Regions from separate parts of the Homo sapiens genome. Here region 1 is linked to region 2. Evidence: fine-mapped expression QTL. Tissue or cell type: monocytes. Region 2 holds a variant in brackets; the other region holds the start of a gene. All regions are shown on one strand. Distances are from middle to middle. Region 1 holds the start of SARAF (store-operated calcium entry associated regulatory factor). Region 2 overlaps LEPROTL1 (leptin receptor overlapping transcript like 1).

Region 1 (8,342 bases), 24 kb after region 2:
CAGGCACATGCCACCACATCTGGCTATTTTTTTTTTTTTTTTGAGACGGAGTCTCACTCTTTCGCCCAGGCTGGAGTGCAGTGGTGCGATCTTGGCTCACTGCAAGCTCCGCCTCTCGGGTTCACACCATTCTCCTGCCTCAGCCTCCTGAGTAGCTGGGACTTAGGCACCCGCCACCATGCCCAGCTAATTTTTTGTATTTTTAGTAGAGACGGGGTTTCACTGTGTTAGCCAAGATGGTCTCGATCTCCTGACTTCATGATCTGCCTACCTCGGCCTCCCAAAGTGCTGGGATTACAGGCGTGAGCCACTGTGCCTGGCCACATCTGGCTAATTTTTTAAAAACAATTTTTTGTGGAGATGGGGTCTTACTATGTTGCCCAGATTGGCCTCAAACTCCTGGTCTCAAGTGATCCTGAGCCTCGGCTTCCCAGAGTGCTGAGATTACAGGTGTGAGCCACCGTGCCTGGCCCAAAGCACTTATTTATTTGAAATGACATGATTTGTTGGCTACCTCTCCCACTAGAATGTTTATTATAACAACCTTTCATCTTTTGTTCATGACTGTCCAGAACTGTACATGGTACATGGTGGGAATCTAAAATAACAAACATTCTCTTGTTAAGGTAATTAGTGATTTCTACATTGCAAAATTCAGAGACCAAATTTTGCTTCAAGCTTTCAGCAACAGTGGACACTGTTGACCATTCTTTCTTTCTCTCAATTACCATATCCTATTGTCCTAGTTCTTCCTCCTTCTTCACCAGAGGTTACTTCTCAGATTCTTTCTAGAATCTTCTGCTTGAGGTTCAAATGTTAGTGTTTCCATAGCCTGGGCCTCCTTTTTTGTGGTATCTCAATTCTCTCATGTTACTGTGTCTCTTCCCACATGTCTTAGTTCATTTTGTGTTGCTATAACAGAATACCTGAGACTGGGAAATTTATAAAGTATAGAGATTTATTTCTTATGGTTCTGGAGGCTGGGAAATCCTAGGTCCAGGGGCCTGCATCTGGTGGGGAGCTTCCTGCTGTGTCATTTCACGGTGGTAGGCAAAAGAGAAAGGGAGCTGAACTCATCCCTTTTATCGGGAACCCACTCCCCAATAACTAACCCACTCCTGTGATAATAGCATTAAGAGCTCTGCCCTCATAACCTAATCACCCCTTAAGAGTCCCCCCTCTCAACACTATTGCTTTGGGGAATAAGTTTCCAACACATGAGCTTTGGGGGACACATTCAAACAATAGCATCATGACATTAAATGCTATCTTTATATTTACAACATAACTACCAAATTTACCTTAGTTTTGAACTTCAGACTTTTACAGTTTATCTATTTATTTGACACGTCTACCTGGATGCCTAATAGTCACCTCAAACTTAACATGTTGAGCATAGATTCTCTATTATCTCTTATTTCAGTCCTTGGTCCCAGCATTGGTTGGTTCCATGCCGAGGCCCCACTGCTCTGCCATCTCTTATTCCACTCTTCCCCTAACTTACTTTGCTTCAGTTATGGCCTTGTTTGCCTCTTGTCCCCCAAATTTTGTTTTATTCACTGCTGTATCCCCAATACTGATAACAGTGCCTGGCAGGTACTGTTAGGTACTAATAGGTGCTCAATATAATAATCTGGTAAACATAAAGTGTTTTTTTGAGTTCTGTGAGCCATTCTAGCAAATTATGGAACTCAAGATGGGGGGTTATGAAAACCCCAATTTATTTGTTGAGAGGGAGTCTCTCTCCATGGTCCAGGTGCAGTGGGGCAGTCTTGACTCACTGCAACTTTCGCCTCCCAGGTTCAAGCGATTCTCTTGCCTCAGCCTCCCAAATAGCTGGGATTACAGGTGTGCACCACCACGCCCAGCTATTTTTCCTATTTTTAGTAGAGGTGGGGTTTTGCCATGCTGGCCAGGCTGGTCTTAAAGTCCTGACCTCAGGCGATTCACCTGCCTTGGCCTTCCAAAATGCTGGGATTACAGGCATGAGCCACCACGCCCGGCCTGGAAACCCTAATTTATAGCTGGTTGGTCAGAAGCATAGGTCACAACCTGAGACTTGTGATTGATGTCTGAAGTTGGGGCCATCTTGTGGGACTGAACTCTTTATAGGATCTGACCAAATAACTCTTCCTCGAAACACAAAGTTAGGGCTTTTGCATCCACTGTTCCCCAGATGGGAAGATGAGTCCCCTGATCTTTGTACGGCTAGTTCTTTCTCATCATTCAGGTCCCAAGCTTCAAAAACCACTTCCTCAGCAAGGCCCTCCCTGAAGTTGTGTCCCCAGGCTCCATTATATCACCCTGTTTTTCATCAATGTTATTACCTATCATTACCTATTATTTTTGTTGTTTAATTGGTATGTCGTTTGTCCTATTCTATTTCAATGAGTACAGGGATCTTGTCTGTACCATCCATGCCTAAAACAGTGCCTGGTGCGTATTAGGTATTCAACATATATTCATTGAATGAATGAATGAATGAATGAATGAATGAATGAATGAAAGAAACCCAAGCCTGCTAGACCTCAAAAGCCCAGAGAACTGTTTTCTCTGGCTGGTTCTTCATTCAGACGATATTTTCTCCTCTTGACATTTTATAGTCTTCCGGCCTCCATGCGCAAGGAACCATGTAAAGGTTCTGAGCCTTGAAACCAGACAATGTATTTCCCTGTTACTTTTCGCTTGAATCTTCTCTGTATTTAGCAACCAGTCATAGAACACTAACCATGTACCAAGCGCTATGCTAAGTGCTGAACACATAGAGCTGAATAAAGCACAGAACTACCCTTGGTACAATTATTGAGGTTTTAATAATACATAATTTGACTACATTTCTTAGATTTCGCGTCGTGACGTTTTCAGCCTCTCAAACTGCATCGCCTACGCACAGAAGCTTCCCGAATCTCAGACGAGACACAACAAAGCTGCGCGCTGCCCTCGCCCCGCCCGCGGGCGCGGCGGCGACAGGCCCTCGGCCCCGCCCACACCGCGGCGCCACGCCTCCAACCCGCCTCCAGCCGTGCCTCCCCAGGCCCTTGGCCCCGCCCACACCGCCTCGCCCCGCCCCAAGCCGCGCTGTGCTCCAGGGGCGGGGGCCCACGGCGGCCACTCACTGAGCCCCACGGGCCGCAGCGGCAGTGACGTAGGGTTGGCGCACGGATCCGTTGCGGCTGCAGCTCTGCAGTCGGGCCGTTCCTTCGCCGCCGCCAGGGGTAGCGGTGTAGCTGCGCAGCGTCGCGCGCGCTACCGCACCCAGGTTCGGCCCGTAGGCGTCTGGCAGCCCGGCGCCATCTTCATCGAGCGCCATGGCCGCAGCCTGCGGGCCGGGAGCGGCCGGGTACTGCTTGCTCCTCGGCTTGCATTTGTTTCTGCTGACCGCGGGCCCTGCCCTGGGCTGGAACGACCCTGGTGAGTGCTGCCAGGGCCCTCAGGCGCTTCGTTCGCCCTTTTCCGCCGCCGTCAGCCGGTGCAGGCTCCCCTGCGTTTCCGTGCGCCGTCTTCCCGGAGCCTGGGTGCCCGGATTCCCCATGTCTGACCTCTTTGCTGTTCGTGCTCTCCCTGGTTCCACTGCTCTTCCCAGGCGTCTTGGGAGGCGGGTAGGGACTGCTCGAGTGGGCGGGGCGGGACGGCTGGAGATCCTTAAGGTCCCCTTTCTCCCTGCCCCGGACTCCCGGAATTTGCCCATTGTCGTCTTTCTCATCTCTGAGTATAACTGGAGAGCTGGACACTCACCTGCGCATCTGCTTTGTTGTTATGGCTGTGTGATGTCATCGTGGCCTGCTGTTGTCATGGCTGCCTGTTGCTATCGCCGGCCGTTGCCTGCCACTGGCAGTCTCTGAGTCACCCTTAGCGGACAGGGCTGCAGACCTCGCAGGTCTGTTAGCAGAATCGCAGATTGCACTCTTTTTTTTTTTTTTGAGTCGGAGTCTCACATTGTCGCCCCGGCCGCACTGCAATGACGTGATCTCGGCTCACTGCAACCTCCGCCTCCTGGGTTCAAGAGATTCTCCTGCCTCGGCCTCACCGGTAGCTGAGATTACGGGTGCCCACCACCATGCCTGGCTATTTTTTTGTATTTTTAGTAGAGACGGGGTTTTACTATGTTGGCCAGGCTGGTCTCGACCTCCTGACCTCGTGATCCACCCGCCTTCATCCTCCCAAAGTGCTGGGATTACAGGCGTGAGCCACCGCGTCTTTATGAGAACCGCTGCCTCTTATCTGACGATTGCAGTGATGTACATCGCGCGGCACCAGCTCTTCCCATTGGCTTTCACCGTAGAGAAGAATTTAAAAAATAATTTTCTCGGTTTTTTTTAGTGATGGTACATGATAAGTGGGTTTTAGGAAAGAGGTTCTTTTATGTCAGTACAGTATTAAAATTGTCTAAAGAATTTTCATGGGATCAGTAATATTCCGTGCAATTAATACGTATATGTCTATATACTTAGATACAGATTTTGACTTTTTCCATGTAATAAATGACGCATGCTGTTACTTTGGAATTCTGTAAAAAAAAAAAAAAATGAAAACAACATCATTTTTGCTTTGCGAAGTAAAGATGGCATGGAAAGCATATTGCCTTTGTGATTTGGTGATTGGAAATGCCTGCATTGTCGAATTTAAGCAACAGGTTTATTTCTATAATAGCCTATTCTTACATGCTGAAATGAGAGAGAAGGTGCTATTTGCAAGCACATCACGTTGAGTAGTCATTTGATGTGGACATTTTATTACCAAAAATAAAAAGCCAAGTTGTATTTAAATGTCTGTACGTTTTTCTTTTGTATTTCTAGAAAGCTGTGTATGAGTGGGAGACTTGATCAGAATTACAAGTGAAAACCTAGAATGAAACTTTAATTTGTTGAACTTTGAATCAGTTCGTAAATAAATTTAATAAAGGAAGTTTACAGTTGAAGAGCCAGAAGAACTATAAAAACTATGAAAGAAGAACCAAATTTAAATTAAAGATGAACCACTTCCTGGTTTATCTACGCTGTAAAACTATTGTTCTGGAACACAAAGCACCACAATATTTTGCAGAGTAAACTCAATTGTTTTATGTAAATTCTACTTCAAAGTTTACTTTGAGGAACTTTTTTGTTTTGTTTTGTTTTTTTGAGACAGTTTCACTCTTGTCGCCCAGGCTAGAGTGCAATGGCGCGATCTTGGCTCACCGCAACCTCTGCCTCCTGGGTTCAAGCGATTTTCCTGCCTCAGCCTCCCGAGTAGCTGGGATTACAGGCATGTGCCACCATGCCCGGCAAATTTTGTATTTTTAGTAGAGACAGGGTTTCTCCATGTTGGTCAGGCTGGTCTTGAACTCCCAACCTCAGGTGATCCGCCCGCCTTGGCCTCCCAAAGTGCTGGGATTACAGGCGTGAGCCACCGCACCCGGCACTTTGAGGAACTTTTTAAATGAAGATACTTTATTGACATACTATTTATTAAGTCCTTTACTAAAGCATTAATCGGCTCCCTAATTTATCTTTTGTTTGACTTGGATGCCATTACTTTAGCTCACATTGAGCAGTAATTTGTCTGGAAAAAAAAATTAGCACCATTCTAAAGAGATTACCAATGAATTTTCAAAATTCCTTATTGAATGTAATCTTATATTAAGTTACTCTTCCGGGTGTTGGGAATATAGCAGTGAACAAAACAGTGTCTTGCCTCCAAGGACTTTACCTCTATTGGGGAGAAATAGACAATAAACAGATAAACATGTAAATAACATGCTATATTGTGAAAATTGGTATGCACCGTGTATGATAAACAGCGTAAGGAGGACATGGTGTGCGGGCAGAAGTGGAGACTTAAAAAACGTACATTGGTCAGGGAAGTCACTGTTAGGGTGACATTTGACTGGAAACCTGAAGTGGGGAGGAGGAGTAAATGACCTGAAATTACTTATATCTTTAAAGGCTCATTTGGGCTGCTCTGTGGAAAACAGACCGAAGAGGGTAGGAGGGAAGCAGGGAAACCAGTGAATTAATATATATTGCTATCTATTTTAATATTGTACAGTAAGTTCTTAGAGTGGTGACCGCTTGGCCCAGGGCAGGAGCAGTAGAGAGCTGGTTAGAGTAGCTGGATTCTCTTGTCACCTGTTTGGAAGGTGGAGCTAACATGATCTTCTGAAGGATCAGATGTAGGAGTGAGAGGAGAGAAGATGAGAAGTCCAAGGTTTTTGGCTTGAGCAACTAGAAGCATGGAGTTAACCATTTCCTGAGATGTGGAAGAATGTGGGATGATCAGGTTTAGGGGAGTTTGGTTTTGTTTATCTTGTTTGAGACCTGCCGTGATTTTGATTTATGAGTCTGGAGTTCAGGGAGCTCCTGTGTCCCTTGACTGATCTAACTAGTGGGGCGTGGGTATTAGAATTTTGTTCTTGGACCTTAAGAATCTCTAGGGAAGAAAGATGCTATAGGATTATGGTAATGCTATTCCATCTTAAAACTTTCAGTAATATTTATCATACCTGATCACCTGTTATGCTTCAAGTACTCAGCCAGATAATAAATTATATCTAAGCTTCACAACAAATTTCAAGGTTGATAATATTTTAATTTTGTAGGTGAGGAAACTTCTACACAGGTAAATTAAATGCCTTGGCCAAAGTCACAGCCAGTTAGTGACACCAACTTAGTTCAGTGTTCTTTGCATTATTGCAACTCTGTTACAATAAATTCAATTTATTATTTCTGTTATTTAGTTGATTAATACAGTCTGATTTTTCTAAACCATTGAACATTTTCATTGTCTTATTTTTTATGTATGAGGAGGTAGTAGTTTGTGTTTAATGTAGCATGGTTTATTTGAATATAGTTCTTGGAAATTTTAGATCTGTAGCCCATGTGGAATTAAATTTTTATATAGCTTTAGGTGGATTTTCTTGTGGCTGCATAGTCAATTATGCCAGTGCTATTTATTAAAGAAGACATCTTTTATCCACTAAATTAAAAAGACCACTTCATCTTACTGAATTCCCAAATGTATCTTGATTTATTTCTGATCTTTCTTTTGTTTCACAATTTCCTTGTCTCTGTTCCAATTCCCTACTATTTTGATTATAATCTTTTTTTTTTTTTTTTTTTTTGAGATGGAGTTTCACTCTTGTCGCCCAGGCTGGAGTGCAGTGGTAGCAATATCAGCTCACTGCAACCTCCACCTCCTGGATTCAAGTGATTCTCCTGCCTCAGCCTCCCAAGTAGCTGGGACTACGGGCGTATGCCACCACGTCCAGCTAATTTTTGTATTATTAGTAGAGATGGGGTTTCACCATGTTGTCCAGGCTGATCTCGAACTCCTGACCTTAGGTGATCTGCCCTCCTTGGCCTCCCAAAGTGCTGGGGTTACAGACGTGAGCCACCGTGCCTGGCTGATGATAATAATTTTATAGTAACCTTTACTATCTGGTAACCTATGTGTTCTTTTTCAAAAAAAAATTGTCCACAGGACCTTTAACATAATTTCTTTCCCCAAAAAACCCTATTGGGTTCCTGGTTGGAAGTATATTTAGGTCTCTCTCTCTATATATATTTTTTATATAGATAGGGTATTGACCTTAAGTTTATTAGATTGATTAGATTCATATTAAATACTTGTGGGAAATACATCATAGGAGATGTTGTAACATCAGTTTGTTCCACCATTAGCAAAGCGATGGTTGGCAAACCCAGCCAGACTTTTTCCTTTAGAGTTTTTGAATATATTTCTCCATTTTCTTTTTCTATCCTGTTGAGATACCTGAAGCTTTTCTAAGTCTTATCTTTTCTATATGGCTTGTTTTCTCCCTATTCTTCTGGCAATTTGTAGAATCTTTTTTTGTCTTCAGTGTTCTAAAATTTACTTTTCGTGTGCCTTTGTGTGGTCTGTTTCTCAGGCCTGGGTATTTGTTGGGCCCTTTCAGTATGACAACTCAAGTCCTTCAGTGTGGGAACTTTTCTTGAATTACAGCCTGGAGTTTGTCTAATCAGATTCCCTTGTTCATTCTTTCAGAAGCCCTTGTTGGATTTTTGGACTTTCTGAACTGGTCCTGAACTGGTAATTTTCTTTCTTTCTTTTTTTTTTTTTTCCTCCTACTGTCTTTTTTCTTTCTTTCTTTTTTTTTTTTTTGAGACGGAGTCTAGCTCTGTCCCCCAGGCTGGAGTGCAGTGGCACCATCTCGGCTCGCTGCAACCTCTGCTTCCCGGGTTCAAGCGATTCTCCTGTCTCATCTTCCTGAGTAGCTGGGATTACAGGTGCCCGCCACCATGCCTGGCTAATTTTTGTATTTTTAGTAGAGACGGGGTTTCACCATATTTGCCAGACTGGTCTCGAACTCCTGACCTTGTGATCTG
Region 2 (8,342 bases):
CAGTAACTAAACACAAAGGGTGAAGTGAGATATAAGACCCTGGAAATCAGACAAAGGTCTATGAGTATCTTGAGCTCAGAATAACCCCAACATTAAAGTGTAGTAAACTTAATTATAAGCCTTCTTCTGCTGCACAGCATGGTAACACCTCCCTTATCTGGTGCTCCTTTTGCAATCTCAGATTATCTAGTATACAGTTAAAAATTATTTTTTTCTTAAAAAAGCCTTTCAAGAGGAAGAATACCTGTCACAAAGCATTTCATTTGTGTAAGAGGTAGGAGGCACCCTAATTAAGTCCACTGATGTACTGTGTACAGAAATGTTACATAATTGATTTAATAAGCTTGGTTGCCTTATTTTTTTCTTGACCACTTTCCACTCTTCCTAATATACTGTAAGTCAGCAACTTGGAAACAAAATAAGTTAAGGGGTGCTAGAAACAAATACTCAGTTGTATGAAAAGGATCAAAAACACAATTCCAGAAAAATACAGGTCGGCAGCCACTTACAATGGGGGGGAAATAGTTTATGATGATAGTCCTAAATTACCAAGGAAAAATTAAAGTGTTTTAATATATTCTAAGAAAGCACATGTGTACAATCCATTTAATACTTTCATCAAATGATTAAAGTAAAACAAACATTAGTTCTTAGTAAGCTAAGCTTCATTGATCTAAAATATTTACCTACAGGACATGTTTTCTTCCTTGAGAATGCCATAAAATGAACAGACCTGTAATAAAATCAGAGCTCCTAATCTTCACTGAAAGAAAGGGCAATACAAGCTTATAGAGAAGAAATACGAATTTCAATTTCCCACCAATCGTATACATCATAAAGCATCCTGGGATCTAAAACACACATACCACTTAACAATAACGTTGTGTTGCTTGTTAACTTTGGTGCATTGATTAAAAGTTATCTGAAACTTAAAAATCTAGTCACATTCAATATAAATATCCTAGACTTTAGAAATCTGGATTATTTTGGCCAAAGTGTGGTGGCTCACGCCTGTAATCCCAGCACTTTTTTTCGGGGCGGGGGGGTGGTTTGAGGGGGGTTGTGGTGGTGATGGCTTGAGGCCAGGAGTTTGAGACCAGCGTGGCCAACATGGCAAAACCCCATCTCTACAAAAAATACGAAAATTAGCCAGGCGTGGTGGTGCAGGCCTATAATCCCAGCTACTCAGAAGGCTGAGCGGCAGGGCGATAACTTGAGGCCAGGAGTTTGAGACCAGTGTGGCCAGCATGGCAAAACCATGTTTCTACAAGAAATACAAAAATTAGCCAGGTGTGGTGACCTATGCCTGTAATCCCAGCTACGTAGGAGGCTGAGGTATGAGAATCGCTTGAACCTAGCAGTTGCAGTGAGCCAAGATCGTACCACTGCACTCCAGCCTGGGCACAAAGCAAGTCTCAAAAAAAAAAAAAAAATCTGTATTGACAATGTCCCCAAAATCATATTAGAGCAGACATTTAGTGTCCACAGCCTAAACTTTTTAAAGTATATGATAAGATTATAATTAGGACAATTTGGGACACGACTAATATTTGAAAATACAGAACAGTACTTTTCTCTCTTCACAGTGTACCAAACAGAAATATTTTTTGTTTAAAATGTTTGCAAAAAGTAACATGCTATAATAATGAGTGGTAATAAATACATAATAAGAAGTCATAAAAATGTTCTGAAAATTTAAGAAGTAGGACCTTGCCTTTAGATCAGTAGTAGTCTTAAATGTCAACAAAACCTTTTATGACTATTTTTGTAAAAGATTTTGTAAAAATTCTACTTCCCAGATTACCAATCCTTTTACTACAGCTCAAAATTACAGGGCTGCATTGTAATATCTGTAACTATGGTTTCCATTTTATTTTGGAATGGAAACTTCTGCAACTCTAACATTACACCAATGTCATCTTGCTTTACATCACCTTATTAGAATGTTAATGCACTTCAGAATGAAAGTGTGCCATATATTTTCATTTCAAAAACACCCACAAACTAAAATAGATATTTAAAATCTTTATTGTTTCATCATCAAAAGTTTTCTTTCCATAGAAGAATGGTAATATTGTATCAGTGCATATTCTATGGAAAATTCATATCTCAAGTAACTAGCCTAGAAATCAGAGACAGCACTATGTCAAGCTAGTATACAAGGTCAAAGACACAATGCTGCCAATGCAGTTAGTATATAGAAATAATACGCAGCTGTTAGAAAAAGTCTGTGGCCAAGTGGATAAAACAGTAGCAGTGCACTGCACTGACATCCAGAACAGAAAATAGGGAAGGACCAGAGAATGCACTTCCTGCAAAAAAAAGTCCAGTAGATCACAAGCACAAAGAGTTCCCAACTGTCTCACCAGCTCTCTAACTCATGTGTACCTGCACCTTCCTCTTGAAATCTGAACATTATAATACCACAAGCCACTTTCAGCCTCCAGTGGGAAGGCTCCAGCCACACGCCGATATTTCGTCCTGCTTCCCGTCATCTCATATCTAAAAGTCATGGCTTAAGTTAGGCAATAAAACCTGTGGCTTTAGGCATCTTTAGTAAAAAAGCTGAACAAATCCCAAATTTATTCCCATTTTCTTGAGAAATAAACTTCATAAAACAACAGACAGCTGTCATGATTACTGAGTTTTGGCTGATGGCGAAATAATTTTTATGTAAGTATACTGAATAAACATACAAACAAATATCCTTAACAAAATACTGTCAGACCAACTTGAATGTTTTTATAACCCACTCCTGAAAAAAGTCCTGATAATTATTAGATGTAAACGACCACTATAAATTGATCATGCCTGGTTACTGGGAATTTTTTGGTCAGGTATGTTTCTGAAGCTGCTATATAGCTGGACTTGGCTACTTTGCATTAACTCACACAACAAATGCCTTTTATAAGGAAACAGCAGATCTATCATGATGAACTCAAAATCAAAACAGTTCAGAGGTATACAGGAAACTTGTCTTAAAAATACTTTTAAATTACATATGATATAACCTTAGAGAATAAGAACTACTATTACCATGGTCTAAATCTTAAACTGTTAATGCATGAATTATCTGTAAGACTAACAAGTTACTTGTTAATCATGGCAAGGCCTTGCAGGGGAGGGGGCACTCTGAATGTACGGCATAGCAATTATTTTCCAGGTAAGTAAACACTTCTAAGTGTTATTAAACTATATTTGAAAAGTTATTTTATGTAATATATACAACATACCAAATAAGTCAAAAGGAGGAAGCAGAGGAAGGTTTTCTGGCATATATGATGCAAACATACAACTGTCCCTCATCAGTAGTGGTTCCATGTATGTCCATTTTAACAGGGTAAAACATGAAAGGTTGATAGGAGATCACAAATTTCACTTATAAATAGAAACAGGATTCAAAAACTGGAATTTCAATGTCATTTCTTCCCACATTGCAACTCACTCTAACAATAATAAACATAAATAAAAACCTTATCTCAAAAATGTTTTTACACCCTTACCTTAAAGTTTAACATAAATTCTTCTAACAATTGAGAAGAAAAGCACTCCTCTGTAGCAATTCCATAAAATAATTTTCAATCCACAAAACATCTGTCTACCAGTAAAACCAACAACCCTTAACGGAGGGCATGGGCATTAACACTTGGCCCCTCTGAGGTATAAATGCAGCTATATTTGCACTGAGTATACAGTCTATAACGTATGCCAACCGTCTGTATGTCTGCATAACATTGGGAGTGATGTCATCCTGACTGACTGAAAACTTATTTTTATAATTTTTTGTAATAATGGAGGCTAAATAATTTTAAGAGAAAAGATGTACTTGACCAGTAATAGAGCCGGCGGAATTCTGAATTCCTAACCAATGCAAATGATTACATTAAAAAAGTGTTTAACATTGCATATTGATTCCAAAAAAAATCAACCTAACAGGAAAAACACATAAATATTTAAATTCAGCAGGACACCACAAAAAGCATACTATAGATAAGTGTGAAATCAGTCAAGCTTTTCCAAAAGAGAAAATCCTTTTAATCCTTCAGCAAGTCTCTGTGAAAATAGTATGCTTACAATAAAAGTGAGAAGGGAGCACCTAAAATACCCCCAAGAGGCTTGCTATACCATTCAGCATTAACTGCCCCATCTCCTGTGTGCGTGAATGGCCAACAAATGACAGGAAGTCCATTTGACAATAGTTCAGTAATTTCTTTTCACCACTGCTGCCAGCTGAAGTCGTCATTGCTTCCAAAGACCAAGAAAAAGCCTAGTATAGTTGCAAAGATGACTGTGTTTCCTGTGAGAACAAGTGCACAAGCTCCCCACTCAATCTATGGAAATAAGATACACTCAGTCAACAGGCATGAAAAACGAAAGGAAAATAAAAAAAAAAATCAAGGCTCTAGTTGTATCCCAATTATGATCTAAAAGAAGCATGCCTTGTAACAATAATTGTCACAGTGCTGAACACATACTTATAAATATATATAGTATAAATATATATAGTAAAAAAATATATAGTATAAATATATATAAATATATACAGTATAAATATATTTATAGTATAAAAGTGGTACTTTTATACTAGTATTTTCATTTACCTTTGGTTCCTTTAAAAAGAAAGTCATGAAATGACCATTCAAAAACAAGCTTGACTTCTGGGCTATGAAGAAGCAGCATAAAATTCTACAAGTTTCTGTTTATAAAGGAATGTGCTTACTCTTCCTTAATATAAAAATCTATCTAGAGTAGATTAAATTTTAGCATATCACAGATGGAAACACACCCATGTACATTCTTTTGAAGGGGTGGGAAAACAATTGCCTTCTCCATATGGCTGTCTTCTCTACCTCCCCAGAGATGAAGGCGCGTGGATCAGTGAGTTTGGGAGGAAGAACTGAGTACCCGTAGCCAGCCCCTTCCCCTCTTCAGTGCTTTTCTGCCTGCAGAGCACATGCACCTTCTCAGGTCTTCCATATTTTAGGTTTTACAGGATAGGCCTGGGTTGTTCAGCACTGGGGGAGTTGATATGCTCAACTCTGACAGTTAAGTATTAGCAAGCCAGACGGGTGCGGTGGCTCATGCCTGTAATCCCAGCACTTTGGGAGGCCGAGGCGGACGGATCACGAGGTCAGGAGGTCGAGACCATTCTGGCTAACACGGTGAAACCTCGTCTCCACTAAAAACACAAAAAATATCAGCTGGG[C/T]GTGGTGGCGGGCACCTGTAGTCCCAGCTACTCGGGAGGCTGAGGCAGGAGAATGGCGTGAACCCGGGAGGCAGAGCTTGCAGTGAGGTGAGATCACGCCACTGCACTCCAGGCTGGGCGACAGAGCAAGACTCCATCTCAAAAAAAAAAAAAAAAGAAAAAAAAAAGTATTAGCAAGCCAACAGCTGCTGCAGATCCAAGCCACGTTCTCCAATATCACTTTTATTAGTTAACAAGAACAAACAATAAAGTGAGATTTTAATCTCTATCTTCTAGGCTCTTATGTCTTTCACCTCTTTTCATGTCATTAACAAAAACTTTGCTTGAGAAAAATGTAACACATGTTCAATATAAAATCATTAATGGAAGAATATATTCACTTACCAGATGTGCTCTGGCAAATACAATAGGGAGTCCAAAAGCTGACACGACAATGCCCGTTGTAAGAAAGATGGCAAGTTCCTTACAAGCGTTACTCATAGCATCTGTATCATCCACTAATCTTCTTGCTATGCAGTATGGAATAGGTGAAAGGATGTAAAAAAATAGAACAAAGAGGGGCCAGTATTTGCTAGAAAAAGAAAAATAAGTTAATGTAATTTTTGCTATGTCATTTTCCTACACACAAAATATGGTCTTTTTAAAAAATCAAGATTCAATCGCTTGACTTCTAATGGATGATACCCAACCTTAGCATAAAGCTGAAACAACCCTAAACTTCCCTTACAACACGAGGAACTCCCAAATTACAGAAATCAAAATACAGAAAAGAAGCTAAAAGTAAGAACACTTTCAGTCAGAATATAGAATTTATCACAATAAAAATAGATGGCTTTTACTCTACATCTAGTTAACTGTATTGTACCACAGTCATTTCCTGGTTTTGATAACTATGGTTATGTAAGATCTTATGACTCTGGCAGGCTGTGTGGAGGGTACAGGGGACCTCTGTGTATGATTTTCACAACTTCTTCAGAATCTAAAATTGTTTCAAAATAAAAAGTTAAAAAGAAATAGATGCCCTTAAAACTACCATAGAATAAAATAGGTATCATGGTGGAGATCTGATTGTACAGAGGCTAATGATAAGCAGCTACTTATGTTTCCTAAATTTTTTTTTTTTTTTTTTGAGACAGAGTCTCGCTCTGCTGCCCAGGCTGGAGTGCAGTGGCATGATCTCGGCTCACTGCAACTTCTGCCTCCTGGGTTCAAGTGACTCTCCTGCCTCAGCCCCCGTGACTAGCTGGGATTACAGGCGTGCACCACCATGCCCGGCTAATTTTTGTATTTTTAGTGGAGATGGAGTTTCACCATGTTGGCTAAGCTGGTCTTAAACTCCTGACCTCAGGTGATCCACCCACCTTGGCCTCCCAAAGTGCTAGGATTACAGGCATGAGCCACTGCGCCTGACCATTTCCTAAATATTTTAAGAAAAAAAATTAAAAATTGAATATATGCTTAAGAAAAATAATTCAAACAGTACAAAAGCACAAAAAGTAAAGACTAAAAGTTCCAAATCTCCTCTTGCCCACTTTCCTATTGAGCTTCTCAGGGACCCTTCCACATTTCCACATAAACTTTAAAATATGAATGGGTCCCTGCAGTTTTCTAACAATATGTCTTGAACATATTTACATGTTAGCACTTACAGCTCTTCCTCATTCTTTTTAAGACTGCCTAGTATTTCCATTAAAAGATTTACTATAATTTAACCATTTTTCTTTTGAAGGACATTTAGGATGTTTTCAGAATTTTTTTTGGCTCTTATAAATAACGCATAAAACAACAAAACAAAAACAAAAACCAAAAAATAAACAAGGCTGCTTGAACATCCATACTCTCCCCCACTAAATATATCTTTGTAAACATCTGCAAGTGGGTTTGTATCAGAAAGTCTAACAAGTGAAAGGGCTAACTCAAAGAATATATACTTTGAGAGCTACAAGCAAACTTATCTCCAAGAAAACTATCTATGTGTACTCCCCCCACAGCACAAAAGAGTCCCTGCTTGCCCTGTCTCTTGTCTTTGTCAATAGATTTTGTTTAGTTTTGAGTGAGGCTGGGGATATTTTTATGTGCTTATTAGCAATTTGTAGTTCTCTTTTTGTATTTATTTTTCTATTGAGTTGTCCATCTTTTTCTAATTTATCTAAATGTTAAAATGTTAACTTTGAGAAGTTCTTTCTATCCTAAGGAAAGAAATTTTTTTTTTTTTTTTGGAAACAGAGTCTTGCTCTATCACCCAGGCTGGAGTGCAGTGGCGTGATCTTGGCTCACCGCAACCTCCATCTCCTGGGTTCAGGCGATTCTCCTGCCTCAGCCTCCCGAGTACCTGGGACTACAGGCATGTGTCACCACGCCTGGCTATTTTTTTGTATTTTTAGTAGAGATGGGGTTTCACCATGTTAGCCAGGCTGGTCTTGAACTCCTGACCTCAGGCAATCCTCCCGCCTTGGTCTCCCAAAATGCTGGGATTACAGGTGTGAGCCACCGCACCCGGCCGGAAAGTAATTGTTTACATCTCTCTCTTTTTTTTTAATTGTGTTTTGACTGCTTATGGTATTTTTTTGCAAAAAGACATTTTAAATTTTCTTGTAATTAGTATTATCAATAGATGTTAAAAACTGAGCAGGAGGGCTGAGGTACTGTGTAGCTATCTTGCCACTGCAGACTCAGCAGTAGTGAAAGAGCAGGTAACAGCCAAAAATATTATTTGCATCTTGGTGTCCTAAAATCTTTAGAAACAAACTTTAAGTGGTGATTTTTACAAAGGTATGTGTTTGGTAAGTGAACATTTCTCTGCATTACTTTTACAGTAGTAAAAAAACATTTTTTTAAGCTTTAAAAGTAGAAAAATTTTACCCTTAAATATTCAGAAAGACAAACATTTTACATACTTGTATATTGGAAGGGCACATCCAAGCATCAAAAACATCAGTCCGATTGCTCCTCCAAAGGACAAACTAATCAAAGCTGCAAAGCAAATAAAAAGTGCAACAGGAATATAAATTAAATATTATTTTTATTAATATCAGCAGTCTGAACATTATCTGTAACCTCAGAAGCAAAAATCCCTAAAACGTATTAATAGCAAGTTGCCATCAGAAGTGTAAGTTATCTAGTCTTAGAATAAGTC

Evidence for each region. PIP is the estimated chance that this variant, and not a neighbour inherited with it, causes the effect.
Region 1: it holds the start of SARAF, and the variant in region 2 is fine-mapped to the expression of SARAF in monocytes (TOPMed, PIP above 0.99). The same link has a PIP of 0.9 or more in blood mononuclear cells.

What each region holds. Positions count from the first base shown.
Region 1 is chr8:30,077,916-30,086,257 of GRCh38, reverse strand. It overlaps SARAF (store-operated calcium entry associated regulatory factor), which reads left to right and starts at 3,194. Exons shown (of 6, transcript NM_016127.6): 1 at 3,194-3,411. The coding sequence starts at 3,309. RefSeq lists a silencer at 2,871-3,240 and an enhancer at 3,281-3,630.
Region 2 is chr8:30,101,735-30,110,076 of GRCh38, reverse strand. It overlaps LEPROTL1 (leptin receptor overlapping transcript like 1), which reads right to left. Exons shown (of 4, transcript NM_015344.3): 2 at 8,104-8,179; 3 at 5,591-5,777; 4 at 1,553-4,331. The coding sequence ends at 4,215. Among named protein-coding and RNA genes, the nearest start is that of LEPROTL1, 10 kb to the right of the region's middle. The variant C/T (reference allele first, on the strand shown) is at 5,207.